Regions from separate parts of the Homo sapiens genome. Here all the other regions are linked to region 3. Evidence: fine-mapped expression QTL. A gene starts in region 3. Each other region holds a variant in brackets. All regions are shown on one strand. Distances are from middle to middle. Region 1 has its middle 32 kb from the start of TNFAIP8. Region 2 has its middle 81 kb from the start of FAM170A. Region 3 holds the start of TNFAIP8 (TNF alpha induced protein 8). Region 4 has its middle 24 kb from the start of TNFAIP8. Region 5 has its middle 44 kb from the start of HSD17B4. Region 6 overlaps TNFAIP8 (TNF alpha induced protein 8).

What was found. PIP is the estimated chance that this variant, and not a neighbour inherited with it, causes the effect.
Region 1: its variant is fine-mapped to the expression of TNFAIP8 in cerebellar hemisphere (GTEx, PIP 0.97).
Region 2: its variant is fine-mapped to the expression of TNFAIP8 in whole blood (TOPMed, PIP above 0.99).
Region 4: its variant is fine-mapped to the expression of TNFAIP8 in whole blood (INTERVAL, PIP 0.93).
Region 5: its variant is fine-mapped to the expression of TNFAIP8 in B cells (Fairfax 2012, PIP 0.95).
Region 6: its variant is fine-mapped to the expression of TNFAIP8 in whole blood (INTERVAL, PIP 0.97).

The regions. Positions count from the first base shown.
Region 1 is chr5:119,321,547-119,326,774 of GRCh38, reverse strand. It overlaps a transcript of TNFAIP8 not described here. Among named protein-coding and RNA genes, the nearest start is that of TNFAIP8, 32 kb to the left of the region's middle. The variant C/T (reference allele first, on the strand shown) is at 3,111.
Region 2 is chr5:119,545,909-119,551,136 of GRCh38, reverse strand. It overlaps the pseudogene RPL21P58. Among named protein-coding and RNA genes, the nearest start is that of FAM170A, 81 kb to the left of the region's middle. The variant T/C (reference allele first, on the strand shown) is at 3,169.
Region 3 is chr5:119,352,991-119,358,218 of GRCh38, reverse strand. It overlaps TNFAIP8 (TNF alpha induced protein 8), which reads right to left and starts at 2,200. Exons shown (of 2, transcript NM_014350.4): 1 at 2,098-2,200. The coding sequence starts at 2,128. LOC102723444 (a long non-coding RNA gene) reads left to right here and starts at 2,446. Exons shown (of 5, transcript XR_007058912.1): 1 at 2,446-2,521; 2 at 3,853-3,964. RefSeq lists silencers at 1,514-1,573, 1,371-1,665, 2,294-2,453 and an enhancer at 3,104-3,243.
Region 4 is chr5:119,329,856-119,335,083 of GRCh38, reverse strand. It overlaps a transcript of TNFAIP8 not described here. Among named protein-coding and RNA genes, the nearest start is that of TNFAIP8, 24 kb to the left of the region's middle. RefSeq lists enhancers at 198-257, 1,635-1,684, 2,295-2,344. The variant T/A (reference allele first, on the strand shown) is at 3,031.
Region 5 is chr5:119,405,411-119,410,638 of GRCh38, reverse strand. No RefSeq gene overlaps it. Among named protein-coding and RNA genes, the nearest start is that of HSD17B4, 44 kb to the left of the region's middle. RefSeq lists an enhancer at 58-327. The variant G/A (reference allele first, on the strand shown) is at 2,840.
Region 6 is chr5:119,394,381-119,399,608 of GRCh38, reverse strand. TNFAIP8 (TNF alpha induced protein 8) reads right to left here. Exons shown (of 2, transcript NM_014350.4): 2 at 1-5,228. Among named protein-coding and RNA genes, the nearest start is that of TNFAIP8, 41 kb to the right of the region's middle. RefSeq lists enhancers at 1,709-1,758, 2,039-2,088, 4,523-4,572. The variant G/C (reference allele first, on the strand shown) is at 3,117.

The DNA.
Region 1 (5,228 bases), 31 kb after region 3:
AACACTCCTCTGCTTTCTCTTCATTTCCAGCCCCATCACCCCAACCTCCTTCAGGCTCATCCTCTGGCCTGAACTTCCTGTGCTTCTTACTTAGTTGTCCTCATGATACATTTTCTCAAAGCACAGCCCGATCACCCTTAACACTGCCATGTGTACCTAGAATTAAGTTTAAAAAGCACTTCCATATCCTCTCTCACCATGTTACCCTCTGATGAGGAGCACGCAATGCTTCCCTGCTGCTCAGGGGTCTGAGTCCATGAGTCAACATAGGACTTAAAGCAGTCCCCAGTCCTGCCCCCACCGTGCTTCACTGTTTTGCCTCTGGGCCTCTGCTCACCTGCTTTCCTCAGCCCCTCGGATTCTTTCCATCATCACCAGCTGCAAAACACTGCCAGTCTCCCAAGGCTCAGCTCAGATGGAGCCTTTCATGACACTGTAGCCAGTCACTGCTCCCACTCCTGCATCTCCGTGATATTTGGACACTTACAGCATTTCCCACATTTTGCTCCAAGAGATAGCCATGTTTGGCTCCAAGAGGTAACCATCACTATACACACCTCATCAGCCCTATTACACCACACATTCCTAAACGACAGGGTGATTTCTTCATTCATTCAGCATGAATGAATCCACCTGCATTTACCTAGTACCTACTGAATGGTAGGCATTGACTTAGATGCTGGGGACATGGGAAATGAAACATAAGGGGTTGCCTGTGTTACAAAACTGACATTCAGTGGGAAAAAGCGGCAGCAGACCAGTAAGCACATACATAAATGAAGGACGGATTGTGAAAGGTGCTAGGGCAAAAATAAACAGGAGGTTCTGACGGAGACCACTCTAGCAGAAGTGGCATTGGAGGTATATGCTGAAAGCCACAGGAATAATGGTCTGGGCAGCAGAAAGAGCAAGTGCTACAGCCCGAGACAGGACAAGCCAGGCATGCTTCAGGGGAAGGAGGGGACAGGGGCTGGTGTGGCTACAGTGACGGAAGCAAGGGGAGGAAAGCTGTAAGAAGCAGCTGGGAGGCCAGGCACGGTGGCTCACGCCTGTAATCCCAGCACTATGGGAGGCCGAGGCCGGCGGATCACGAGGTCAGGAGATCAAGACCATCCTGGCTAACATGGTGAAACCCCATCTCTACTAAAATACAAAAAAAATTAGCCGGGTATGGTGGCGGACGCCTGTAGTCCCAGCTACTCGGGAGGCTGAGGCAGGAGAATGGCGTGAGCCCGGGAGGCAGAGCTTGCAGTGAGCTGAGATCGCACCACTACACTCCAGCCTGGGCGACAGAGTGAGACTCCGTCTCAAAAATAAATAAATAAATAAACAAATTAAGTAATTAAATAAAATAGAGCAGCTGGGAGTTAGGCAAAGGCCAGAATATGTAGACCATATAGGACATGGTAAGGAGTTTATATTATATGACAGGAATGTAAAACAGGACAAACATCTGGAAGGCAAAGTGACAATAAAGATCAAAAACCTTAAAACTCCACAGGCCCTTTGAACCACTTACAGGAATACATCCCATGAAATAGACAGAAGTGTGGACAAGTGCAAGGAAACTGCGCGGGGTTATGACAATGACCCCATATGAAAACTTTTAGAGCCTAACTATCCACATGGGGACTGATTAAGTAAATTATGGCACATCCATATATGGCATGTAATGCAGTCTTTTTTTTTTTATTTTTTATTTTTTAAGAGACAGGGTCTTGCTATGTTGGCCAAGTTGGTCTTGAACCATTGGCCTCAAGCAATTCTCCTGCCTCAGCCTCCCAAAGGGCTAGGATTACAGGTGTGAGCCACTGCGGCTGGCCAGTAATGCAATCTTTAAAACCGATCTTGCAGAGTATTAATAACATGAGAACTCTTCACAAAGGCTACAAAACAATATATAAAAGCAAAGAAATTATATTAAGCCATATATAATTTTTAAAGAGAAAACTATAAGCACACAGAAAAGCGCCTGGAATGATGATATGCACAATATATTTTTTTCTGGGTAGTGACAATAAGGAGTGCCTCTTTTTTTTTTATTGGTCAAATTGTAGTTGATAAATACACTACACAAACATGTAATACTGCTGTGATAAGGAAAAAAGGTTTCAAAAACCCTGTGAGTTACAAGGCATAGCAGAGAGGATATCCCATGAAATCATATAAATAAATAGAGGCTGCCAATCAGGAGGCGGCTGGGGCAATCTTCTGTCTTTTCAGGGAATTTTCAAAGCGAAACAGAAAAACAAACCATAAAAACTCCCTAGAACTTGGGGCAGGAAGTGTGTCATTCCCTTTTTGCTTATCCCTGTGACTCAGCAGTGACTGGAGGCCCCTCTGATCCATGCACGAAGAAGTTAAAGATAGGAGTTCTGAGAGGATGGAGACTTAGAAACCTCACCCAGGAGCTCCCAGCCCCGAGGGGGAAGTTGGGAATGTTGAACTTGGAACTTCTTCTTTTTTTTTTTTTTTTTTTTTTTTTTTTTTTTTTTTTTTTGAGATGGCGTCTTGCTTTGTGGCTCAGGCTGGAGTGCAGTGGCGCGATCTCGGCTCACTGCAGCCTCCACCTCCTGGGTTCAGGTGATTTTCCTGCCTCAGCCTCTCGAGTAGCTGGGATTATAGACACTGGCCAACACACCTGGCTAATTTTTGAATTTTTGGTAGAGATGGGGTTTCATCATTGAACCTGGAACTTCTAAGGAAAAAAATATTCTCTATTCTTTTTTAGAGTCATTACAACAGCAACCAACAGTCTTACCTATAATGTTACAAATTAAACATGATTAAGCTTTTGTCTATTTCCTTTAAATAAGATTTACTTCACAAGACCCAAACCCACTGTTGTTCCAAGCCTTCTTCCCAAACAGGTTTGAAAGTTTAACAAACATTCTAGACAAGTCTCAACAAGTCTCAGGTATTTTGATCCTGGCTTACACAAGCTCAAATTGAAGGAGTTTTACTGCAGAAGCCCATTCAGCCAATTTATGCCCCTGTTCCCCACTGGGAAGCAAAGATGATTTGGTTCCTGTGTCCCCATCTGGCAGCCTCCTAAGCTCAGCACTCAGCCAAAGAACACAGATTACAACTGATTTGCTAACAGAAGCCCA[C/T]ATGCTTCTTTTAGTCCATTTTTAATAACCCTCTGGAAACTACAGAGTGGAGGGAAACATACAGAGCACTATAAAACAAAACAGCAACTTTTGACTCTGGAATCATTTACATTTTTAAGGTAAATTAAATTAAAATGTGAGGACATACAATTAAAATCCAGGACCACTGCCTTCCTACCTTTATTTAACAAATATTTATTGAGGCCTTACTGTGCCCTATGTTAGACTCTAGGGTAAATGACAAACAAGTGGCCAGAGATGTGTATGTATGCAGGGTGGGGTGGGAATGTGCTTGAGGGAGGCAGATATTTCCGAGAAACTCCAAGAAATGCAGCCAGCTTGGGAACAGGTTATTAAGGATCTTATAAGCCCTGTTAAAAAGTTTAGATTTTATCAAAACTCTAATGAGGCATTTTAAGCAAAGGATGATGCAATCAGATGGACATTTTATGAGGCCAATAGCAGCATAGGATGTTAGACTGGAGAAAGTGTAGGGGGTGCAACTGCCCTTTAAGTAACCTAGGAAAGAGATGGCAGCAGTGGCTTGGTCTTAGTTGGTGGCAGTGCACAGTGACAGGCAGTATATAGAGTGTACAGCTATTCACGGGAGAACTGACTATACTGACAACTGATTGGGCATAGGGGTAAGGCCAGAAGCAGCAGCCTTCCAAGTTTCGAGATAGTTACCTGGGTCATTGACTAAGGGGAAAAGTGAAAGAGAAGGCAAGTTCAGCTTTCTTCACATCAAATTTGAGTTGCCTATGAGACATCAAAGAACATTTTCTAGCTAGACACCCAGGTCTAGAACTTAGACAAGAGCTTGGGCCTGGAATGTAAGTTTGGGAGGCACCGGCATGTAGAGAATCTGAAACCCTAGAAATGGGCGGGATCACCAGGGAGAGAGTCGAATAAGAAGGGCAGAGAATCCAGGTGGAGCCTAAGAAATACCAACGTTTTGATATTGGACAAAGAGGAAGAAGCCTGCAAAGAAGACCAAGGAGGGGCACAGAGAAAACGGGGAGGAAAATCAGGAAAGTGGATTATGGAGGACCAGTCTGTCTACAGAAATGGGAGCAGCATGGACTCGTTTGGAATGGTCAGGAAGAGAAGTGAAAGGTCCCCACCTAGCATTAAAATGCCAGAGGCTGCTCAACTTCTCCACGCCTGTGTATTTCTGGAGTTATTGGTAAACAGCAGGGGGCCAAATGGGAGGCAGCAAGAAGAGAGCAGGTTCTGAGATAAACTTAGCAGGAGATCCTGGCCATAGCCAGCATGGTCTGCTCAGAGGCTGGAAAAGGGGCCAAGGTCCTGGGACCACTCCTCAAGGAGTAGCACTTCATCATTCAGCCACAAGTATGTATAGGTCATTTACTGCGTGTGAGCACTGCTGATGGTGCTGGGGATAGAGCAGTGACAAAAGTTCTAACAAAATAGCTGGAAAAACAGGATTTTGAGTGGAGATAAACGCTGTGGAGGGAAAAAACAAACCAGAGGCAGGGGCTAGAGAGTGGGTGGGAGAGAGGAGCATTTTGGATAGGCTTTCTCCTGGGGTAACATCTGAGCAGAAACCTGAGAAAAATTAGAGAGAGAGCCAAGGAACAATCTATAGGGAAGGGGCTTCCAGGCAGAGGGAGGGGTGTGTGCAAAGGCTCTGAAGTAGGAGGAAAGAGCTTGGGAAGTTTGAGGAACAGCATGGTGGTCAGTGTGGCCTGACTGAGGCAGGGAAGGAGGGAGTGGGAGGAAATTAGGTAGCAGAATTGGGCAGAGGCCACATGAAGGGGAGCCTGTAGCTCCTGGTAAGGAGTGGGGAGTTTGTCCGTTGGAATGGAAAGCCGTGGGGGGTTGGAGCAAGGGAATGACTGTGATCAGCGATAAGACCATTCTCATTGCACAAGGACTGTCTGAGAGTGACAGTGCAAGAGCACAGGGGAGTTAGGAGGCTTCTGAGGCTACCCAGAAGAGAAGTGATGGTGGGAGAAGCAGTGAGATTTAGGATGTGCGTATTTGCTAGGGCAAGTGGAAAGAACTTGCTGCCAGGTGAGCTGTGTGATGAGTGAACAGAGGAATCAGGATGCCTCCTGGGCTTGTGGCCTGAGAGCTGCATGCACGAAAGGCAAA
Region 2 (5,228 bases), 190 kb before region 3:
AGCTTCCCCAGTAGCTAGGACTACAGGCATGTGCCAGGCTGGCAATTTTTTTCATTTTTTGGAGAAAAGAGTTTCACTATGTTGCCTAGGCTGGTCTTGAATTCCTGGATTCAAATGATCCTCCCACCTCAGCCTCCCAAAGTGCTGGGATTACAGGTGCGAGCCACAATGGCCAGCCTCAAATTCTTTTATGTCAAGCCATCTGTTTAGATTTTCTATTTTGTGTCAATGATGTAAAAAAATCATTAAATTTATACAGCATTTGAAGTTCATTGGCATACAGTTAAGCAAAATACTCTCCTTTTTAAAAATTAATTAGGTAAGATTGTGAGTTAGCTATTTATTACACTTTGTAAAGATCAGCCTGTTGATTTGTTTGTTCATTTAATTATTTATTTACGCTAGATTTTTTATTTTCAACTCTCTTCTTTTTCTGCTTTTATTATAAATAATTCCTTTGCTCCGCTTTCTTTGGGTTTGTTGTTTTTCTAACTTACTAAGTTGAATGCTTAATTCATTTATTTATATTCCTATAATTAGTATAAGAATTTTAAACTATGAAATTTTCCTTTGATTACTGCTTTAACTGTATCCTGCAGTGTTATACCATTTCCATATATTCCCGTATGCAGACATAATTTTATAAAATAAATGTAATAATATGCAAGCTTTGTTAATATACCTTTTTCCTTCTCCTTTTGCTTGGTCTCCCTTTCTCCCTCCACTCCTCTCCCCTCCACTATAATCACCATACCCTAACTGCCACGGTAATCTTTGCTAACGACATAATGTGTTGGGATACATTTTTCCTATAGTGAAAAATCTTTCTCCGTCATTCTGCTTTAGGTGTGTATTATTTTATAGCATATAGTTGAATTTTCTTTTTTTATGTCACTATTGTATTTTCCCAATATTTAAATTGCAAAAATGTTTGAAAATACAGTAAACCTGAAAGAATTTTACACTAAGCACCTCTATAACCACCTCCTGAATAATTAACGTTGTACTATTGTTACCAGTGGAGGGTGTCCAGGTACTTGGCGTTTTGAACAAAGAATTGGACAAAATGCACAAAGCAAGGAAAAAATGAAGCAACAAAAGCAGAGATTTATTGAAAACAAAAGTACACTCCACAGGCTGGGAGTGGGCTTGAAGATAGGGGCTCAAAAGCCCTTTTACAGAATTTTCTGGGGCTTAAATACCCTCTAGAGGTTTCCCATTGGTTACTTGGTGTGCGCCCTATGGAAATGAAGATGGCACACAACTACTTCAGAGCCTGAAGTGAAGTTACAAAGGTTACACCCTACGCAAGCATGTGATTGGTTGTGGAAAGCAACCAAACAGAGGCTAAAGTGAAGTTACAAAGTTATACTTCTATGCAAACGAAGACTGGGCCTGCAGTCAGTCTGATTGGTTGTGGAAAGCAACCAATCAGAGGCTGAAGTGAAGTTACAAAGTTACACAAACTTACAAAGTTACACTCCTATGCAAATGTCCGATTGATTGCAGAAAGCAACCAATCACAGATATTTTCAATTTTCCATCTGCCACGCAGAAAAAGGCGGGGAGGGGTTGCAAAGGGAGTAGTCTCCATTTTTTTTGTTACTTATGTGTGGAAAGTTGGGGTTTTCCTTTTGATTTAGTTCTAGGAAGTCAGCGTGAATTGGCCTTAGGTTCCTTGCCTCCAGACTCCATTTTTCTGCCTCATTACGCTTGTGGCGTCACATCTGTCCATCTGTCTATCCCTCTATACATCCCTCTTATTTTTTTATGCATTTCAAAGTAAATTGCAGATATCAGTGCACTTTATCCTTTAGTGCTTTGGCAAGCATATCATGGATGAGAGTTTAATATTTGTTTATAGTTTTTTCTCTTAAGAAAAATTTATATATACAATCAAAGGTATAAATCTTCAGTGTAAAACTCAATGTGTTTTGACAAATGTATTTACCTGTGTAATGCAAATTCCTATTCAAGATGTAGGATATAACTACCAGAGTTCTCTCATGGTCCTTCCCAAGCAATCCAACCTTTCCTCCTCAGTGCAACTACTTTCTGAACTTTTCCACCATATTTTAATTTTCTTGTTCTAGAATGCCATATACTTTTTTTTCTTGTTTTTGAGATGGAGTCTCGCTCTGTCTCCCAGGCTGGAGTGCAGTGGCACGATCTCGGCTCACTGCAAGCTCCGCCTCCCGGGTTCATGCCATTCTCCTGCCCCAGCCTCCCGAATAGCTGGGACTACAGGCGCCCGCCACCACGCCTGGCTGATTTTTTGTATTTTCAGTAGAGACGGGATTTCACTGCGTTAGCCAGAATGGTCTTGATCTCCTGACCTCGTGATCCGCCTACCTTGGCCTCCCAAAGTGCTGGAATTACAGGCGTGAGCCACCGCGCCTGGTCATTCAGTATATTTTTGAGACTTATTCATGCTGCTTAACTATTTATTTTAGAGATGTAGGGGCAGTGGCTCTTCACAGGCATGATCATTGCACACTGCAGCCTCGAGCTCCTGGGCTTAAGCGATCTTCCTGCCTCAACCTCCTAAGTAGCTGTGACTACATGTGCACACCACTGAACCTGGCTTGTTAACTTTTTAAATGGTTGAGTAGAATCCCACTGTATCATATACCATCATCTGTTTATCCATTCCCTAGTGGATGGATTTTAGCTATTAAAAACAAAACTGTTGTAAAAATTCTTATATAAGCCTTTTTGTAATATGTTTTCATTTCTCTTGAGAAAGTAGCTAGAAATTGAATTGACTCACAGGAAAAGTGTATACTAGTTATAAAAAAAAATGCTAAAACTTTTTTCTAGACTGGTCATACCATTTTACACTGCTACCAGTGTATAAGACTTCCAGTTGATCCACATGCTTACCAAGATTTGGTATTGTCAGTCTTTTTAACTTTAATCATCTCAGTTAGTATGTAATGGTAGCTTACTATGGTTTTCATTTTCATTTCCCTGACTTCTCATGGTGTTGAGTACTTCTAATGTGACACGTGGCATGTCCTAATCATTTGCCCATTTTTAAAAATTGGGTTATTAATGAGCCTTACTATTTTTAATATTTAAAAAACAGTGGGAAGAATGGGATAAATTGTATGCATGGTAGTTCCAACATCTCAACAAGAATCGCAAGTTGTATGCCAATCATTTTGT[T/C]TCATTAATATACTTTATTTGGTTTAAAGATTATGAGATAGAAAGAGCCTTAAAGGAACAGGAAGCATATGAAAAGACAAGTTAAATGATGAGCAAAGTGACTTAAAATAGCTATTCTCTAATGGTGAAAATTTTACGTGAACATATTTAAATAAGAATGGCAAAAACAAAGCTCCATTAGTAAGCAAAATATAAATAAGCAACTTTTTTAAGTATTTGTTTCTTGACCCTAGTTCTGTCCCTTGACATTCATAATTGAAAAAATTTTCCTGAAAGGCATTCATACTTTCATAAATTGTTTAAGGCAAATAAATATGACAGTTCTTTCGGCTGGAACCACCATCTTCCAGTAATTCACCAAAATGATGAAGACAAAGGCAAAGAGGAGAGGCACCCGATATATGGTCTCTAAGCGTTTTAGAAAACAAGAGTTTTTCCTTTGGCCATGTATATGCAAATCTATAAGAAAGGTGATATTGTAGACATCAAGGGAATGGGTACTGCTCAAAAAGGAATGCCCCACAAGTGTTATCATGGCAAAACTGGAAGAGTCTACAATGTTACCTGGCATGCTGTTGGCCTTATTGTAAACAAACAAGTTAAAGGCAAGATTCTTGCCAAGAGAATTAATGCGCTTATTGAACACATTAAGCACTCTAAGAGCCAAGATAGTTTCCTGAAACGCGTGAAGGAAAATAATCAGAAAAAGAAGCCAAAGACAAAGGTACCTGGATTCAACTGAAGCGCCAGTCTGCTCCACTCAGCGAAGTACACTGTGAGAACCGATGGGAAGGAGCCTGAGCTGCTGGAACTTATTCCCTATGAATTCATGGCATAGTAGGTGTTAAAAAAATAAAAGACCTCTGGACTGTAAAAATGTTTCTACTCATTGAGTAGAAGTGTGGTGTCCTCTTCCCGAAAGAAATATTTAAAGTAAATTTTAATTGTCTTTATCCATTGAGTAATGTCTTTACTATTCCAATTTAATGTATTTCTTGCTCAAAGAGGTGAGGTGGCTTACTGTGGAACATATTACTCAATTGGTTAGAAAACAGCCAGATATTATTTATGAAATATTTGTACTGGTTTGAAGATAGTCCCACTAAATCATCATGGAAGAAATAAAATAATTTACAAAAATTTTTTAAAAATTAAATTTTTAAAAAAAATAAAGCTGACAGTTGAAAATTTTGTTTTCTAAACCAGTGGCTCTCAGCACCTATATCCAGTTTCCACCCTGCAAGCTAAATCCAGTTCCTAGCCTGTTTTTTGTCCAGCTAGCAAACTAAGAATGGCTTTTTCAATTTTAGGTTTTTCTTTTTGTTTTGTTTTTTTTTTAAGAAATACGGTACAGAGACCAAATGTGGCCCACAACGCCAAAAGTCTTTACTGTGTGGCCCTTTACGGAAAATGTATGCTGACCCCTGATTTAACCCATCATTGTTCTTTACTGACAGTCCTGTAACTTCAAGAGATTAAGGTGTATAGAGCTGTTCAACCTCACTTCAAATGACACTTCTTAGTCTGTTTTCTGGGTTAATTTTATGACTTCTTCCATGCTGCCTACAAAAACTACCCCCAGCCAGTGCTCCCTGCAACAACACATGGTTCTTTCTACTTGACTGTTTTTCCATTCTTGTGAGCTGTAGGCTTAAAAGTTATGTAACCAAGCTTCTTAAAAGATGGATTTTGAATGAAGCTACAAACAGATCTTACATGGTTAAATTTTGAATTTTAGTGCCTCAACACTCGGCAATCTCAGGTTATCTTTTTTTTTAAGCTACGTTAACCCTGATGTCTAGAAATCACTTAATTGGGCAACTTCAACCAACATACCATGTATACATGTAATATAAATCTAGACTCATTTTTAGCTAAGGCTTGCAATTTCTGTATTTTGCCTATTTATGCATTGTAAAATAGGTTATTTTCTATCCTCTCCCCTCATAAAAATAGCTTAGTCCACATTGACCTAAAATGTTCTTCTCTTCAGAAAATCACTTTCCATAACTGTCAGCTTTTGAAGTTTCTGAACTTCAGAATTTCTCAGTGGAACTGGA
Region 3 (5,228 bases):
GTATCAGGCATGAAGCATCCAAAGGCAGTTTTCTTGCAATACAGACATTCTTAAGAACTCATGGTGATCTCACACTAAATGGGATACATAAGTTCACCAGGATGAAAAAAAAAAAAAAAGCTACGTATAAGAGGAAAAGGACTAGTAACGATAGAGAAGATAACTGAGTTATTTACACAACATAGCTCGCTTCATCGACATCTGAGTGGTGGTAGCTAACCAGAAGGTTCTAGATTACAGCCAATGAACCAGCCTTGGAGAAAACACACCCAAAACACACAGACACCTATCCTTCATTTCCTGGCAGAAGCTATATGATTCTATCTGATTAATAAAGTGTTCAATCTCCCTCAAGAGTTATTCAGTATCCCACCCTAATTGCTATCAATTTAAAATTCTACTACCTCAGATTATTTTAAAAGAAACATTCTGGGCTTTCTTTAAAAAGCAGAGCGCCATATCATTTGTGGCCGATCTGCAGAATGTAAATGATGACAAGTGGAGGGAAGGTGAGGAACAAGCAGAAGGGGCCCCATTAACCTCTTCATAGGCCAGTTTGCAGGCTGCTTCCAAACTTAAAACCAGAGAGCTGGGCCCTCGAGGAGGGAAGACTGTGGATGTTGCTATGGGAATGTATAATACACACTTTGGGATACTGTTTTTCCACTTTCTCTCCCACTCTCTCTTTCTCAAAAGACAGGGAAAACACACCTGAGAGAAAACGCCAGCTTAAGTGCTACTTGTAATTCACACAGAAGTTCACCCTTGAGTTCTCTCAGCCTGGTTCCTATTTGCCTTCAACTACCTTTGACTTTGAATAAACTGCTGGTATAAAGACATAGAAAAGAAAAGCATCTATCAGCACACAGCTCCATCAGAACACAGGACACGGCAAGAAAGCATTACTCCCCCCATACTCCACATCAAACTCAAAAACAATGCTCCTGGCTGTCATTTTTCATTCATGCCAGCCCCGTATTTCTATTAAACAAACCTCCTTTTTATTGACTATTTCCCTCACACAGCATAATAAGGTAAACGTGAGCCCACAAAGACTACATGGTGAAACACAAAGCTTTCCTCTGGGAGGGGAATCAGTAAAAGGCAGAAGAGGACAAGTTTCAAGGGCTCTTCCTAACTGGTGTCTACCAAATGGAGAAATGATGGGGCTGCTCCTCTGCCAGAACTGCTGTGATTGACTTGAAATTAACCAGCTTTCCAAGAGACTACATGAAAAGAAAGAGTATTTCACAATCTTGAATAGTCTCCTCTCTTACTCTCTAATTTTCCCCAACCACCCTTACTCCCACCCCCCACTTACAAGAGAACTTTTGTATACATAAAGTTTCAAGGAACAAAGCATACAAACACTCACACACAAATAAACTCCCCAAACTAACACCAGCGTATAATTGTGTTTTGGTTGGAGCTTTTCCAGCCCTGTCACCTGTTCTCTGTTAGGAGTAAATGAAACCCTTTGCTTTTGCGAAGTTAGAAACAGACAAACTCTTCTCAGTTTCAAGCTGCACAAGGACCCCCTCATATCTTTCAGCCCCCTCAAACCCCCAACGAAATGAACTCACTGCTGAAAACCCAGCAATGAAAAAAAATTAATCTATTTCTCAAATACAGATTTTCGCTTCCCCTCACTCAGCTTCCCCTTTTAGCCGGAAACATATAGCGTTTCTAATTTCTCAAACCCCTTTTCAAGGGACCCTCCACTCAGGGCTCTTCCAGGGATCCCGCTTTCAGTCTTTCTGATGCAGGCAGGCAGCCCTTTTCCAAGCACATTTTGCATTCTTGGAGTCCAAGTGGGGCTCTTTCGTTTCCAGAGAAAGCTAAAAAGCAGACTTAGTGGGCTGGCTGAACTAGGTCCGACTTTTCCTCCCCTCCCCTCTGAACGGCTGCGGGGGGAGAAGGGAGCCCAAGATGAGACCCGGGCTCCGCTTATCCAGCTCCGACTTGGCTTCGAAGGCGCAGGGCAAGCGGACAAAGTGCCCACCGCTCACTTTAAAACTCCCATCCTCTTCTACCACTGCCTTCCTCCAAATTCCTCCGCAGAACTTGGCCGGCCCCCAGGAGAAACCAGAATCCTACCTTCCTTGGATTCTTCTGCTTCGGAGTGCATAATGTCAGGATAACCAGCTGCAGGGGCGATTACCGCTCACATGTACTCGGACGAGCCGCAAGTTCGCTCTGCAGCGAAATCCGCACACGACGGAAAATAAAAGGAAGAAAGCCACTAAAATCAAAACCTCCCCGGGGCGGGAGAGCGGGTTCTGGTGCAGGGATTTTCAGGGGGAAAGTTCTGCAAGAGTGACGAATCGCGTGTCAGCTGGGCGGCGGGAGTCCGCCCCCGGAGCCGCGCGCTCGGGCCGGCAGCCGGGCGGAGGCGACCTGGCGGGGCTGGCTCGGCCCGGGCGCACGCAGGTGGGGCACAGGCCCAGACGGCAGCCGACTCTCCCGAGACACAGGGCCGAGAAGAACCGTCGGCAAACGCACCAGACGGGCGGAAAAAAAGGTATAAAAAGAAAAAAAAAGTCTCATCTCAGAGCACACTGTAGTTTTACATAAATAGCAAATGCATATAGGGTAGAACCAATGCCTCTGTATTTTTGGATTACATTTTTTGATGCCCATTTGACTTTGTCTTGGAGTCTTGCAACCCAAAAATTACGGATTTTAAAGCGGCTTTGGTATGTTATTTTTGTAGGAAAGTCGCATGGATATCGTCCATGGGGTTGCAAGGACCAGCTTAAGAGAGCACAATTTCACAAGTCCCAGAGCGGGGCCTTTTGAAGAAAGTGGAGCGGCCTCCACCCTTACCTTTGCACAGCAAAAGCAGACGGGGCTGCTTACTCATTCAGTATAGCCCCGGGCGAGCACTGGTACTCCAAGCACAGCCCGGGCACTCATTGCTGCAGTTACTCCAAAGGGCCTTCCTCAGGGGGAGAGCACGGTTCCCTCCCGGCTACCAGCAAAAACTGGGGATGAATTCCTTCAAAATGCCAAAGGGGAGGTTTTCAGGATTTGAAATGCTGATAGAATAAAGAAGCCGGACAGCCTTCACAACAGATCTCAATTCTGCCCCCGGGTCTGGCCCACAGGCCCCTACAAATTGGCTGAGAGGAAGTCCCCTTAGCTCTGTGGAGCCTTGGTTTTCCCTTCTGCAAAGCGGGGACAAGAGCTGCCACTGATAGGCCTGTCTTACGGAGGTATTTTGTAGAACACTTGTTTTATCGCCAGTCTGAGGCAAAAAGTCCTCAAATAACATATCTGAAAGATCCGCTTGGAAATTATGAGAAAAAAATATACTCTTTTGACAAATTTATTTTCCAGTTCGTTTCTTTTTCTTCGTTTCCGATTTTATATAGGCAAAAACCAATAGAAACACTATGGCAAATTTAGTGAAAAGAACGTACAAAAGACATGGATTTAAGGAGTCTGAACTTAAATCCAGTTCTGCCATCTATCATTTGTATGACCTTATGCAAATTAACCTCTCTGAGCCTCCAGTTCCTCATTTGTAAAATGAAGATAAAAATAGTATTATTTACTTCACAGATTTATGTCTGTATTAAATAAGGTAATATAAGCACAAAGGGATTTGAAAACCATAAGGACTACATAGATTATTACCATTGCACCATTAAAAGTAAATTTTTATAAAACATACTCTTGGGTTTTATTTCAGTATTGACTTTGAACAGAAAAGAGTGCTTATGCTATTCACAAGCAGTGAAGGCTATTATAAATATTAATGTAAGAGGTCTAGATATTAAATCACATCCTACTGCTGAGAGATTCTAACCTGCCTAAGATTCTAACATGTTATCTCAATTTCACTGAAAGAGCAGGATGAAGGGAGGAAGATATAGCCAGCCAGAGAAGGGAGAAGAGGAGAAACATCTGGAAAATATCAGTGTTGCAGAGCCTCCCGGAAACTGACCTCGCCACCGAAAGGGTAACAGACTGCACCCTTCCGAAAGTCACAGTTAACTTCATGGTCCCCTCTGCCACACATCCTGAGTCAGGAGCTGCTGATATGTATACCTTGCACTCAGTAATCTCAGACTTATGGGGAGATACACTGAGATGAGGATGATTCTGAACCCAAAGAAATGCTCCCTCACCAGTCACAAGTGGCTTTTCCTGTCCTGCCCAAGTCAACATTCTGCCCCTCTCTCCCTATACCATCTATCCTTGCCCTTCCTCACTGCAACCCAGATGTCCACAGATAGTCCACAAGAGATCTTAAGGGATCTCACCAGGGCCGTGTGCTACACAAGAGAGCTTCCACTGATCTATAATTGGGGTAAAGCAACACCTTTTCAAGGTGATGATTATGCAAATCCAGACAACCCAAATTTCAGGCCCAATCTGCCTACAGCAGAATTACTTTCACTCTCTTCTTTTAGAAAGTACCCTTACAAGAAATATTTATTAAATGTCATTTTGCAAGTCCAACTGGGGACAAACCACATAAGATATGTTAAAATACATGTCCTTTAATGTGCTACTTGTTTTACAACTGCTGAATGAATAGTTCAAGCGCTCCGTCAGCCTTATAATTCATTTTAGATTCATGTTAGCTTCGTTGATCTTTGAACATTCACCATCGGCCTCAGGAAGCCTGGAGAGAAACTTCTTTTGTATTTAAATGCAAGCAAGCAGTCACCTTGGGGAAGAATGCTCTGTTTTAGCTCAAGAGCAATGAATGCTCAGCTTATTTTAAAAGGCTTTATGTGAATAAGTACATTCCTCAGTCTCCCGTATAACCTCAAAGCCATCTGCTCTGGGCAGGCTGCATTGCCCCATACCCCTACCCTGCAACATGGTGACAAAGGGCAGCTGATTCTCTAGGGCTCCCCTTGGCCTTCTGCTGCTCTCAGATATGTACTAGGTCATTTTGATTTTGCTGTGCTTTTATTCAAAAGGGGATAATTTACTTCTTAGCCCCAGTGAATAATGGTCCAGTACATCATAATGATTTGTTATCTCCTGTAGGTGGGACTTGTTGATTCTTGTATGTTTAAGAAACACCCCAAACATCCTTCACATGGCAACATGTATGGAAGTCATACCAACAAACTATTACCGCCCGCCTGATACAAAATTGCAACTAAGTTAGCAACACTTCTCATTTAATAACAAACTGTACTTAAATTTAAATACTATGTTGAACTCCTGCAAGTGTCTAATAATGGAACTCCCACCTTTTGTGTCAA
Region 4 (5,228 bases), 23 kb after region 3:
GCCACTACGGTTCTCAGCTTGGCACGCACAACCTTGCCTCCCCTTCACTTCTAGCCTGGCTATTTTCAACCACGAATTTACAGTTCGTTCTCAAATGGTTCATGCTTACCCTTGAATGCTTATGACTTAATCACTCCAGCCTTGGAAGCTTTATGTACACGTCTTTCTGCCAAAGTACGCTACCTACCCTCCCTTTGGAACTCTACCCAAAACTCACTTCTTCCACAAAATCCTCCCAAGCAAAGCTGGCTCTGATCTCAACTCTATATATGCAATGACATACAGTCACAGACACATAACCATTTTTTTTGAGACGGAGTCTCACTCTGTCACCAGGCTGGAGTGCAGTGGTGCGATTCTCGGCTCACTGAAATCTCCACCTCCCAGGTTCAAGCAATTCTCCTGCCTCAGACTCCCAGGTATACACACACACACACACACACACACACACACACACACGAAAGGATCACATGCACAGCTCTAGGCATCTAGTAGACGAATGTACATTTACTATAAATGATATGCAGGTGACCACATTCCATACAAGAGAAGTCAGGACTCTATGAAATAATATTTATTGGCTGCCAAGGGTTCAATAATGGACCAAAAGATTAGCTATACCAACACCCACCTATGTCTTCCAAATTCTAGTTTTTCCCTAGTATTAAATTTAAGCTCCAAAAAATCTGTTGAGCAGAACAATTTTAAGTAAACCTAAGCAAATATTATATATCAACTTGAACAAAAGTGTATAAATACCAATATAACTTTAAGGGCTATTTAAAACACTCTATTCTAATCCTTGATAACTTTTTCAATTTACTTTAAAAATAAAATTAAGTCTACTTGTGGGAGCATTAAGTATGGCTAAAAACAAACCTAAGGTGTTATTTTAAAAGTACAAAATGCTTTATATGTAAGGTAAACCGTTTTTTTTTTTTTTTGGTTGTTAGAGAAAATGGCAACAGCAATATTCAAACAATTATCCAATAAGAGAATAGAAATAAACAGCCTTGTGTTTACGGGTTGCCCCACGGTGTTACCACTGCTACCAGACCACTGGGAACCAGAGGTGTCCTACAGTTAATAAACGCATGGAAAATGTAAAAGAGAAACTCTGAGTGAAAAAGCCATCCAATCTTTTCAGAGTCCCATCTCTGAAACATTTCAAATCTTTATCTGTTTACAAATGAAACTGTCTACATGCAAACTTTAAATGTCATTTTTCCACCCACAATACTCATACCTCTCCCTGCTTAACACTGGTTCCCCACACCCAGAGCCATAGCAAAACAAAACAAAACAGTGATTTGTTGAACACAGTAGCTCTAAAGCCACGACCAAACATTATTTCCTTGAAGACAGCAATACTATGTTAGTCATCTGAACATTTTACCAGATTTCAACAAAGACATTATATCTAAACATATTCTGAAGGCCGTTTTAACTCACCTAGTTTCAGCATTTTCTCCCCGTGTGCAATCAGAAGGACAACTTCACAGTATCTTGGTAGAGTCATACAGACTTGAGGAATGCATGCAACCACCCTGTTGACGTGTACACTATGGAACCTGCATCACCCTCGGGGAGACTCAGTCCTTCTCAAGAATAATTCAAAATAATTTATACTATTCTTTTGAAAAATCTACCATAAGCTTACCACATAAATGCACAGAAGGCACTGGTCAACTACAGTCACTTTGAAAGTTGTCTTGCTTGTTATTCTGGGAGCTAGGTTTCGTCACTTGTAGTGGAATGCATTAGGTAGCCTTTAATTGTGAGTCCAGAGAGGTCTCCACATTCACAACAGGGATGGACTGGTTGCTGCCTGCACTTGCTCCCTGTAAACTACAACTACATAGAAATGCAAGATTACCTGTGACAAGCAAACAGGAGTATATTCAAAATCAAGCAGAAACAGGAAGTCTAACGTTTCAACATGCTAGAAAATAGAAACAGATACTTAGAAAAAAAAAAAAACTAAAAAAAAGGGAGAGGCCCCATTCACAGATGCCTGAAAAAAAGAAAATAAAAAAAACACCTCATTCCTACCTGTATAAACATGAACGTCTATTAATAATACGTATTGCTCAGAGGTGTTTCTGTTCTCAGGAGAACTAAGAATAGAGTTTGGACAATGTTGCTACTTAAAATCATCAGCCTTTTGCTTTGGAAGAGTATATAAGGTTTTCATAATGAATGTAAGTGTGAGTGTATCCAGGCATACACAATACACACATGTACACATACACATACATGCATTTATACAATCTAATAGTTTCTTTAGGAGCCTGTTTATTTACGTGGGCATTTGGCAGTCATTGCCACCCACAAATCTTTCCTTATCCACTCCCCCAAGTAAGATTCAAGTGTACCACTTCTAAGAAGGCTTTTCTTTGGTGATCCCTATTAGGTATGTATGATCTCAATCTCTTCCTTTAGCCCCTACTGCACCTTGGTTGACCTTTCTTGGTAACACTTTTTGGTATCTATCACAGCTGTCCTTATATTATCTTCAGTTGTTTATCTATCTTACTCTCCCTACATGGTAAGCTTCTTGATTTTATTTCTATACTCTGTAGCAATAACACTCTACCTTGAAACTACCAAGCACCTAGCAAAAAAAGTGGAAGGTGATGGACAAACTCTCCAAGGTCTGGTTCAGAGTCTATTTATGCCACCTTCTGGTTGTGTATACGTGCAAGTTATTTAACACCCCTGAATAATTTTGCACTTCCGTAAGATGAGAATAACATCATCAATGTCACAGAATTGCTATTAAGATTTAACGAGAACCACGTGAAGCAAATAACATATTGCCTGATGCACATAGAGTTCTCAAGCAGTAATGAGCATTATTATTGACCTAAATTAAAATCAAATGCCCAATACTAATTTGGGAAGGAGGCCAAAAGAGATACCAAATCAACATCAATTTACAAACATATCTCTGTATTTCTTATTTTCTTTGGCCTACATTATCATGTGACTAACTCATAGCGATATGACACTTATACCTTAGAAACCATA[T/A]TTTTGTGTTCTTTTGTGTTATCTCCCCAAATTCTGACTGGCCCTTCATGCCATGAAAACATCAGGGACTAAGGGTCAAAGAAGATGTCAAGAGAAAGCTCTTCCTGGAAGTGCAGGACCCTAAATCACAAGGACTTCGCAGGCTGTGACTCACTGGCAATTCCAAGGGTAAGCTACAAAGAGCAGAAATACTGCATCTAAACAGTGGAACAGGCCTCTCACATTTCCCTAAAATGTGACCTCAGTGGTGGCTGCATGGCTAGGTGGTCACTAGGAACCACTCTTTCCAGTTCTGCTAGGGGAGGATGGGGCAGTGCAGTGAGGCTGCAGGAAGACAAGGCTGGAGGAAGAATCCTGCAGTCCTATGTGAAAACAACTGCCTTCATGGCATCAGGGCCCTTACACATGCTCCAGGCCCAGTCGGGGAGGCACCAGCAAGGTCCCAACACCAGGCAAGGGCAGAGGACATGGTAGCCTCATGTATCCAGTGGGCACCTCTACACCCAGCAGGAAACTCCTGGTTTTGGAGAGAGCTCTCCAAAAACAGGAGAACAAAAAGCAAAGCATCTGCACAGACATTTCCCTAAGACACTCCTTTTCTCTCACTTGAGACTAGAATGCCCAAGATATCCCCGGATCTATTCAAAGTGTGCTGTTTAAACCAGTCCCAGCAGTTAGCATCCTGCTTATCCTACTTGATTTGGGAACAAAGAAGAGTCATCACAGACATAGGCTAGAGAGCAGGGAGATTCTCAAGTAAGTATTTGTGAAGCAGTCAAACCTTACAGAATAGCCTTATGTTTAAAAAAAAAAAAAAAAGCTAATATCTCTTTGTAGATATGACTATGCACAGCACTTCCATGCTTCCCTAGGACTTGTGAATTAAGACACTCTAGGTAGGTTCAGGGATCAACATTGTGATGATTGCCCAATGTGGATGCATCACCCATGCTTCAAGGCAAGGAGGAGAGTGGAGGCAGCCAGGACTTCCAGCCCTAGGAGCCCTGCCTGGTGGCCTAGTGGCTGAAGAATCTGTCCAGGCCTAGCTTCGTGAAAGCAATTTGTGCTCAGGAATATAGTTGGCTCTTGGCCTTTTTCTTGGTGGGCACAACTCTGCAGCAGAAGCGCAGGGCTAATCTGTACCCTAACCCCTAACCCCCAGCCCCTGAGAGTGCAACTGGCATTGGCAGTCATGGAGGTAGCCTGGAGTGTCACAGTAATACCAAATAAGCTGTCATTAGGGAAGTCTGCGGCCACCTTATCTGGTACTTCTTCTCTATCTCTCTGCAAACACATGATGGTGGCCATGAGAAAATGAGATCCTTCCCTTCCGTGTGTGTGTACTCCACGTTATCTCGGCATCTCAGAGCAAGAGACTATCACTTACATCATTTCACTCTCCCCACACCCTGCGAAAGTGGGTGGCAATCCCAGTTTCCAAAGCGAGTGTCAGAGCAGAGAGGTTAAGCAGCATATTCAGCAGGACCCTGCACAATAGGACAGGGCTGAGAGGAGAGGCCATGAGGCCTAACCCCTACCCTCCCAGAACAATCTCTAGACACACATGCTCTCGCTGGCCTAGTTTCATCAACTGCTTATCACATACCCCAAGAAAAATATTTCCTTTATAGCTACCCACATCCTTATCAGAAGCACATTCAACAAAATCATCAAAAGAGTGATGACATTTGTGTCTGCATAAAAAGATACTTTCATTTGTTTATTTCATCTAATTCTACAGCCTCAGACAGAACTGGAAATGTCTACAAAACACCTTGGCCTTTATGCTTTGGCATTCCCAGGACGTTCCCTAATCCCTAGTGCTTAATGCCATGGCTGCCAAGATTAATTTCATTTTCTTTCTGTTCAACCTTCCTCTCTTCCCATCAGTCCTCTCTGTACCCTCCTCGTATGCTGAATCCTGCCCATGCTAACTCTTTCAATGGCGTGCCTAAACCATGGCGCTAATTATAGCTTCCCCCTCCTCTATTCAACTTACTCCTCTTTGTCTCTCTCCTCTTCTTCAAAGAGGAAAGAGTCATTGGTGAAGCAGGGAGGAAGGCAGGCTGAGAAGGAATTATTCCAGGAGACTCAGGGACTGAGATAAACAATATGCTCAGAAGCGTTTTCCAGATGGCCTAACAGAGACGGCGGATGGTCAGACTCACTTCTCACATAAAGGAGGCCTTGCACAGCAC
Region 5 (5,228 bases), 52 kb before region 3:
TCAGCAAAAGAGGAGGAAGTCCCGGTGGCCTGTCATTATCCATCTCTGATCCAATCACTGCAGTCAAGGGAATGTGAAGCTTTGATGGTCAAACATGGTCACATGCCACCCTTAGAGCTGGAAATCAGCTCCACTGGAACCCCCAGCCTTGAGAGTAGAAGCGTAGACTCCCTGAGAAGGTTGGAGGCTATTTTAAGTAGAGTAAGTGGATGCTGGGCTGTCAGGAAGCAAGACAAATCCACCTCAATCACTTTTCAGCCCTTCCCTCTCTGTAGTCTAGCACAGCCCAGGTGACTATGGAACCTTGTGTATTTGAATAGAGAGCAAATGGAGCTCTTGGTGTTGTGAAGTGTGGTGGCCCTGACTCTCAGCAATCATGTGCTGGTTGACCTGTGATAAGGATCATTAGTATTCATTTGCTCAGTACTGTTTCAGTCTCTGCCCATATCTTTCATTAATTTCTATAGTCACCAAGTCACATACACACAAATCTCAAGGAGACAAGCCAAGACAATGACAACATTTGATGACAACAACACAGATCTCAGATAATAACTGTTAAGGTGATAAGGGAAACTTCAGGAATCCCTGGGGTGATAGAAGATGTTTATTAGCACTGTCTTTAATTCATCGTAGTACAAGGCATGTTATCAATACAAAATTTACATGAAGTAAGTCATTTGTTTCAGGTGTTTACCTGAAACATATTGAGTTCCCTCTTTGAGCATTGCAATAAAGTAATTACCTTTTGCTCCCATCTGGTTCTTATATTAACTACATATAATCAAATCAATTATTAAGTGGTTCATCAGAAAGAAGCAATTGTCCTTCCTAATGAGACATCGTCCCCAAACTTGCAGAGCAACAAGCAGAAATAATGAAAATATAACAATTCTTCCCAGGAACAACATCCCTTTTCCTCAAAGTGATGCAGTTCTGTCCTGTCCTCTGCAGCTTGCCCCTGGAAAATCCCACTGTCAGCCTTGTGAGTGATTCTGGGAGTACTGACTCCTGGGAACTAGATCTCCTGATGAGCTCAGACTTTCAGTGAACTACTGTGAGCACAGGGGCCACGAGCAGGGGCTTTGGACTCAAATCCTGCTAGACTTGAGTGTGCACAGGGAAGGGGACGTCAGTGTGCACAGTGGCTACAAGAACAGGCACTGGATTCAAACCAGCTGCCACCATTTACCAGCAGGTGTCCTTCAACAAGTCCTTTCTTTCTGACCCAAGTTTTCTCTTCTGTAAAATGATGGTAAGAGTTCTCACCTTCTGGAGTTGTGACAGAGACAAGACAGTGCACAAGAGTGTTTAGCATACTGCCAGGCACATGGTACTAAATGAGGGTTAGTCTCAATTAGGCTTTTTGATTTGTGTTTTGTTGGGTTTTTTTTTTTCATTTGTGACCAAGAGGCAAAACTTGGCCTGACTCCTTCCTTCCATCAGGAGAAGGTCTGTCACTGACAACTTAACTGAGCAAGGGAAACACCATTGGATAACCTGGCCCCTCACTGAGACTAAGAAACAACCAGTATTTAGGTTTCCCTTTGCCTACCACCTTAGAAGAGCTAGAAAACAAATCTGTGAATCTAAGGAATGTTTCAAAAATCCAGAATCCTCTTTCTAGCGAGTTGGTGCTCCCAGTTTACATTTGACTCTAATTCTGACTCAAAGATGTGATATGATCCATCATCACTCAATCCAAAAAGGAAAAATTTAGAGCATTATTAATAGCGATAGCTTCTATTTATTGAGGATGTACTTGACATCTTGTTCTGAATGTTTAATATCAATTATCTCCTTTAATGATCCTTTGAGATAGGTCATTTTACAGATGAAGAAACAGAGGCTCAAATAAATGAGTAACTTTCCCAAGCTCCAGCTATTAATACAAGGCTTGTTTTCTTAACCTGAGGACACTTTGCAGACTTACAAAATATTTTAAATTAATGATCACAAATGCTTAAAAATAACAAATCTTGATTTGAATCCATACATTCTCATGATACTTCTGGATAGACTTTAATTCTGAGTTCTGGCTGGTCCGTCTCCACTGCCCATGCCAGGTGCTCTCTAGTCTGTTTCTAGGCAAAGTGTTCATGGACTAGAGGTTTCTTAGGTTCCCTCTCTCTTCTCTAAAAGAGCAAGAACTGACTGGGTGCAGTGGCTCACGCCTGTAATCCCAGCACTTTGGGAAGCCAAGGCGGGCAGACCACGAGGTCAGGAGATCGAGACCATCCTGGATAAAATGGGGAAACCCTGTCTCTACTAAAAATACAAAAAATTAGCTGGTCATGGTGGCACGTGCCTATAGTCCCAGCTACTCGGTAGGCTGAGGCAGGAGAATCGCTTGAACCCAGGAGGTGGAGGTTGCAGTGAGCCGAGATCGTGCCACTGTACTCCAGCCTGGGCGACAGAGCGAGACTCTGTCTCAAAAAAAAAAAAAAAAAAAGCAAGAACTTTCCACAGGGAATGCAAAATCAACCTAGCAATATCCTGTATCAATAAAGAGACTTTACTCAAATAGGCTTAAGTGAAACAAAAGAACCAAAATGTATTGTCTCTTGAACCTGAAGAAGCCCAGGGGAAGGCTGGCTGCAGGTGTGGCTGAAAGAGCAGCTCAGAGGACAGCATCAGGACTCCCTTTCTGCCCCTCTCTTGGCTCTGCCTTCCAGATTCACTTTTTTCTCAGGCTGGCTGTTTTTTCATGGGAGCACATTGATTGCAAGAATCTCCAGGTTCCTAACCTCATAGTTTCAAGTCCAGTGGGAAGAGAGAGTGTTTTCTTATATGTATCTCAAGCAGAAGTCCTAGGTGCTCTACAGTCTATCCATTATGT[G/A]TTCACCCCTGCATCAATCCCTGTGGTGAAAGGAATGAAATGCTGTGATTGGCCAGATCCAGCTCATGTGCCCAACTGTTATCAGAGGTGACATTGGCACATGGATAGAGCGTTGGGGAAGGGTGATAGCTCTAAAGAAAAACCGGAATGGGTTTGTTTTGTTTTGTTTTTTGAGACGGAGTCTTACTCTGTCACCCAGGCTGGAGTGCAGTGGCGAGATCTTGGCTCACTGCAACCTCCGCCTCCCGGGTTCAAGCGATTCTCGTGTCTCAGCCTCCCAAGTAACTGGGACTACAAACATGAGCCACCATGCCTGGCTAATTTTTTGTATTTTTAGCAGAGGCAGGGTTTCGCCATGTTGGCTAGGCTGGTCTCGAACTCCTGACCTCAGGTGATCTGCCCCCTTGGCCTCCCAAAGTGCTGGGATTACAGGTGTGAGCCACCATGCCCACCCCAGGATGTTTTGAACAGTAGAACAAGGAATGGATACTGAATAGTAAATGTAAACAACCACAAACATACATGACTATAGATCCAAATGCCCTATAAGTCTAGGGATTCAACCATATATATTTTTAACTAAACTCCAGGCATGCAGAAGAACAATAATATATAACATTAGAAATCAGGACAGTCCCTAAAATGCAGGCCAGATAACCAATGCCAACATATGGGCAGAGGTCCTATGTTCTGGCAAAGTACGGATTTAATCAGTTAATATAAAGCACCTTTCACTCAGCAATTATTATGCCAGAATTAATATGTGAATCCAGAGTAATGTAACAAGTGCCAATCATCCCTCTCCCCTCCCACCCTGCTACCTCCACACACTTGGTCAAGACCTTGGAAATTCCAAGATTTAAACAGAGGAGCCATAATAGAGACCAAAGGGGGCAGAGGTAAGCAGATAAGTTTCAGCTTGTCCTAAAGAGCTAACAGAGAAGAAAGACTTTTGTCAGATGGTGCTCATATGGCTGGTTTACATATTGCGTACATGGAATTTATGTCAAAGCTACAGCCAGAGACAAGGGTGACGCAGAAGGAACAGACCAATCACCTTTCTTGGAGCTGGAATCCACCAAGAACATGATCTCAGCCAGACATCAGGGAATGAGAAGGGTCATTGTTGAAGGGAGCCAGCAGAATGTTAAGACGGAATTTGGTTTTGGTCGGATGAAACTGTTAGCACAGCCCTGGTCCCCTTGGTTAAGTGTGTTATTATATTCCAAAGTAAAGAGAAAGACATGAAAAATGATAATTGGTGAATATTTTCAAAATGAAGATGAACATTTCACTCCAAATCTAAATCTTCTTCACATAAAAACTGCTCATTTAAAATGGTGCAAGGATTAAGCAAGTCTCCTAAATAAATTCCCTCTGCATCAGATTTCTTCTTTAAAACAGTCTGGATGATTGCTAAAGTGCATTTCAAATCTAAAATTCAACCACTAGAATATCCTTAGGAAAGGCAGCTGCCAACTACAGAGGTATCTCAGCCCAGAGACCTGGCTTCAGCCCACACTCAGCACCACTCCGTTACCTCCACATCCCCATCCACATCCTCCGGGCAATGACAACGATGGTGGTGGTGGTAACAGTAATTGAGCACTTGCTATATGTGAGGCACTCTTCTTTACACAAGTGCTTCATGTGGATTATATATAAATACTACAATGATCTCTCCTTAACAGGTGAAAATAACGAGGGGCAGAGAAAATAAGAAACCAGAACAAGATCACAGCCAGTAAGTGGCTCCCCCTTCATATGTTTAACAATCATCTGATCTGTGGATATGATAGTAAGGATCTCAATTTTCTGACTTTCAGCAACAAGCTAGTTGTTACATCTAATAAATATCAGCATTCTAACTTGGATCTTTGCATAAGCAAGCCACACATAGGTAAAGACAAGACTAAGGTGAGTTAGATAATTTTTTGAAGACAGCTTTCTTTGACCCACCATAGAACATACTGCAATTGAACATCTGGAACCAGAAGAGAATACTGAAGATTCACCTCAGCCACCCACCCTTCTGGGAGTGCTAGGGTGCTGTGCACAGAGCAGGGGTCTGTGTCAGTCCTGGGTTCAAGCCCTTGCTCTGCCCCCTGACCAGCTGTGTTGCTGAGAAAATGTGTAATCTTCTCAGTGTTAGTTTCTCTTCTGTAAAAGGGAATGACACCATATATCTCATGGTAAGAGGGTGCTGTATACAACATCTAGCAGCCTTATGTTAGCACACAGCAAATGGTTCGTGATCATGGCATCGTACTCAGGGTGGGGATGTCTGAATCCCGACATCACTATGAGAAGATAACTGCAGAAGGAACGGAATTGACTGCAGACAGGAAAGGATTAAAGTTAGAGATACTAATTTGATCTCTGCAAAAAC
Region 6 (5,228 bases), 41 kb before region 3:
ACCCAAAACAATTTTCCTAAATTGAAAGCAAAAACCGATTTTTTTTTAAGGAGACTGGAATTGAACAAAATTCTCTCAGGCTGCTGAAGTCTGTTGCTTCATTTATTTTAGACTCAGTCTTCTTTTCATCGCTGATTTGGAAATAGTGAAAGGCCACCCGTAAACAATACCTCACATAGGAATAGCCTTCAGGAGGTCTCAGAGCCTTCCATGTCTTTAAAAATTGTATCTTTAAAATTAGAATATGAGGTAATTGCTCTTATGCAAATTTCAGAGACAACATGAGCGAGCTCCCTGGCAGGCAGAAGCTGGACGTCCTGGTTTCCTAACTGCTCCCACAAATGCCCTCTGTACCCTGCTGGGTTCCATCTGGCCACACTCCAGTGCCTCTCCCAGAGGAAGGCATGCCAAATTCCTGACACGTGGCGTTTGAAAATACCATGGAACGTTTCCACTCGTGGATTTCACCATGTTCTCCAGTGAATATTTTAGCAAGCTAAAAATGTGACTCCTCGGTCATGAGAACACTAAGTCCATATGATTCGAAAAGAGCAATAATGCTGGAACTTTGATCCAATTATCAGCAAGTCCTCTTCCAGGAGATTAAATGTCTTATAGTATTTTATAATTTGCTTAGCAGGTATTTATCCTTTAGTGAAAACCAATGGTCTTAGAAGAGAGCAGCAAAAGATGCTGACAAATCATTTAAATGGCTAAGTGGTCATTCTTGCTGGCCTAATAAAAGTCCATTTCTAGGAAGACGAAACCTCAGCTTCTTATAAATCATCAATTATCCCAGATAATGGTAACAATATAGATATTTATACTCTGAGTTTTTATTTCCGCGTCTTGTGTTTCAACTTCACATCAGGTTGGTTTTTAAAAATTTATTTATTTACTTCGAGACAGAGTTTCTTTTTTTTTTTTTGAGACAAAGTCTCACTCTTGTTGCCCAGGCTGGAGTGCAGTGGTGTAATCTTGGCTCACTGCAACCTCTGCCTCCTGGGTTCAAGTGGTTCTCCTGCCTCAGCCTCCCAAGTAGCTGGGATTACAGGCATGTGGCACTGCACCCGGCTAATTTTGTATTTTTAGTAGAGATGGGGTTTCACCATGTTGGTCAGGCTGGTCTTGAACTCTGGACCTCAGGTGATCCGCCCACCTCAGTCTCCCGAAGTGTTGGGATTACAGGCATGAGCCACCGCACTCAGCCTGGCAGTTTTAAACGAATGAATTCATCTGTAAGCTTTTGAATGGAAAAACCAAAGTAGAAAGAAACATATTGTCTTACATTATTCTACAAATCAAAACTTTTAAAAATCAAATTGTCTTTCTTGTATTAAGAACAAACCGCAAGTGCCTGATCATCTACTTTATTTCCACGAGGCAGAAATACAGTTATGCAGCTGATGTCAGGGAAGGCGGAGAATTTCCTCAGCCATCCATGAAGAAAGATAAGGGGCCTTATCCACTGGCTGTCTAATCTTATAAAGATCTCATGCAAATTTGGTGGACATAGGGCACAATTCTCTATCCTTGAAGAACATTTTCCAAAGCACAGATGTTTTTCTCTTAATTGTGAATGCTGACTGACTTGTCCATATCCTTTCTCAGTGCTCAGCAGATGGTACGATTTGGGACTCGCTTGTTCCCTATAACGTGGGGCTGATGTTCTTTGCTACGTGGAAAACACATCTTTGGTGAGACAGAAATGAATCAATATTACACAAAAATGTTTCCATTTCTGGAATTTCCCTGAGATAAAAATATCTTTCTGGCTTTGGGTATACATAAGTGACCGTGCAGACACTTAGTAAAAGAGAAAACAGATTTTCAATACTTCGTGGTGATGGTGACTATACGGGATTATAAGTAGTTAAAGGTTTTCCTGTTGCATCATTTTGGAAACAAAAAGCTGACTCATTTTCTGGTTAATGCTTCAATATTTTCATTAGGGAGTTTCTATAAAGTTTTTATCTGAATCACAGAAAGTACAATTATTTCAGAGGTAGGATAAAATTTTTTCTGTCATAAACAGCACTGTGTACTAAAACCTGCTATGAGTTTAACAAATCACCTAGAAGCCTAATGCTCAAGAATGCAATATATCAAGTAAAACACTGAAAAGTTCAACTAGTTTAGATAATGCAAGTATGGAAATGCAAGATTGACTAAAACTTTTAAATATTATCACTCTTATTAACATGCTAATTTAATTCATTTTACTGGAGTATTTTAATTTCCTGGCAATTGAATAGCACTTTTTACTACAAATATTTCATCATTTGGATAAACATATTCTTTTATTTACCATTTGTCAGGTTTTGTATGCTAAATTGCAACTGCTTATATACACTCATCAAGTATCTCAAGGATAAATTAAAATTCTTAGTAAAAATCCAACTGACCGGTACAGACCACAAAAAGTACTATTTTAAGCCTTTGGGGGCTTAAAAATTGTGTGTGTGTGTGTGTGTGTGTGTGTATTCACATGGTGGGAGAAAAAGAACTTTCCAGATAATTGTGAATGGCATACTATTATATAAGAGTTTAAAACGCAATATTTCTGTACGATCAAAGTTCTTAACTCATGCTTTTTTTTTTTTTTTTTTTTTTTGAGACGGGGTTTCGTTCTTGTTGCCCAGGCTGCAGTGCAGTGGTACAATCTCAGCTCACTGCAACCTCTGCCTCCCAGGTTCCAGCGATTCTCCTGCCTTAGCCTCCCAAGTAGCTGGGATTACAGGTGCCTGCCACCACATCTGGCTAATCTTGTGTATTTTTAGTAGCAGTGGGGTTTCACCACGTTGGCCAGGCTGGTCTCGAACTCCTCACCTCAAGTGATCCTCCCACCTCCGCCTCCCAAAGTTCTGGGCTTACAAGCATAAGCCACCGCACCCACCCCATGCTTTACTCTTAAACTAATTTTGAGTTGTATATGAAAGGCCTAATAATCAGAAAAAGGCTATTTCTTAACTTAACTTGCTCAAATATTTTGAGCCTCCAAATCTGGAAAATAATGTTGAAGTTTGAAACTGATGCCGTGCCTACTCTAGGGAGCACAGTACTGAACTGCTGCTTCCTTGCTTCTCTTGGTGAATGCACATTGAGTGCCTTGTCAT[G/C]CTCTGAACCCACCACTGCTAGGGACAGCTGTGGGGGAGCAGCTCACTGCACCTCAGAAGTCAACGTTAAAAGTCATTGTGAGCACCTAGAAGTGAAGTTCCACGAGACAGAAAACTGAGCCACAAGATGCCCCCAAAGTAGGAGTCATGTTGAAAACTTTGAAAAATGTCTTTGTACAACATCTACACAGATCTTTAGAGAACAGGCCAGACCTGTGCTGACTTAGGTACTGCCTAAAATGTCACTATATGAGGAACCATTTCAGCAGCATACTGCCCACGCTTCTCTGAGCCAAAGATGTTCCTAGCACTGCCTTTAGCCATATCATCTTTAAGTGAAAATAAGATTTTATACATATTCCGGCTGGGACACCTCGAGCACATGTGACCTCAGGAAATTCCTTAACTTCTATTCCCCTAGTTTCCTTATCTATAAGATGGTGAAGATTGTGGCAGAATTAAATGAGTTAATGTGCCCGACACATAATACAAACTACTCTGCGTTAGTTGTCCATTAGTATTATCATCCACTTATCATATCCACTCATAATTTTTGCAGAGAAGCCACCAGCACAAAATAAAATCAATTACAACACAATTTTTTTCAAAACGTGAACAGATACTATTTTATAAAAAGGTTCATAGGATCCCCAAATTAGTATTAACTCGGCTCAGATTTATCTACCCTAAGCACGTGGGGATTCTTCCCAGCTCCCACGCTCCTTGCCACCCTAAATGCTCAAGGGGAGTCCTATTGTATTAGAAATGAACTTGCTAATCACGACTTTGGACCTGATCCAAGACATGCTTTTCAGGCACAGCACTGGTAAGGAGATGGGTCCCCTCCAGAAAATGCTGAGAAATGGTAGCAAACAGGATTCCCTCCTTCGGTCTACTCCTCACTGCCTTCCCTCTGTGGGAGATGAAGCATTGCTCCCCCAATCCCATGCACATTTGATTGCTAGCCTGCTGGCACAACCCTATGATCCAGTGTGTCCAGAGAGATCCAGATTTCTCCCTCCGTACGTTTTCTCTCTCTGGTTGGTCCTGTCTATAGCTACAGATGAGCAAGAAGCATCCATGGACTGCCCAGGGCTTTCGTTTCCCATACCTCTGCTGTTTGAGATCTGGAGAACAGAACACATCCAGTCAGTAGCTCACACCCCCCATCACATTCTCAGCCTTCACATGTGAGGAAAACAGCTGGTCAAGGAAGGCTGCTGAATTCCATTTATAAGCCACTTAGCAAGTTATGAAGCTAGAAGGGTCATTTCTGTAGTCACTGTGTTATTGTTACAGCATATACTGATCACCTACTGGCTCTAGGAAGTGAGAATGATACTTTCAGTTCAAATCTTAGTGTCAGGATTTAATATCAAACAGGAAGAAACTCTACACCTTTGCTGCTTGTCTTAGCCAAGCAAATGAGGGTGTCAGAGAAACTGACCACCCTCTCTAGGCTGAAATGGGTTAGAGCAGATCTCAACTTCTGGAATTTTTAGTTGTGGAACCTTTCCTGGTAAACTATTATTTTAATGTCAATATTCTGGGAGGCAGGCAAATTTAAGGCAAGAGAGTACACTAAATCATAGGCACAGTGGCTCACACCTGTAATCCCAACACTTTCGGAGGCCGAGGCAGGCAGATCATTTGAAGTCAGGAGTTCAAGACCAGCCTGGGCAACATGGTGAAACCCCATCTCGACTAAAAATACAAAAATTAGCTGGGTGTGGTGGTGCATGCCTGTAATCCCAGCTACTTGGGAGGCAGAGGCAGGAGAATCACTTGAACCTGGGAGGCAGAGGTTGCAGTGAGCCAAAATCATGCCACTGCATTCTAGCCTAAACAACAGAGCGAGACTCAAAAAAAAAAAAAAAAAAATCATAGACACAGTGACAATGGAAATGTTTATTGCTGGTGGTTGGGTCTGTCATTTCCTAGAGGACATAGCTGGCCAGCAGATTTTCATTTCTTTTTTACAAAATAAACAAATGCCTACTTTATTATTTATACACAGAAAATTATATAGAAACACCACACAAACTGCTTGAAATACAAATATTCTTTGGTTTACTTATCAAAGTAAAAAATAACAAAAATCTTATCAGTTAA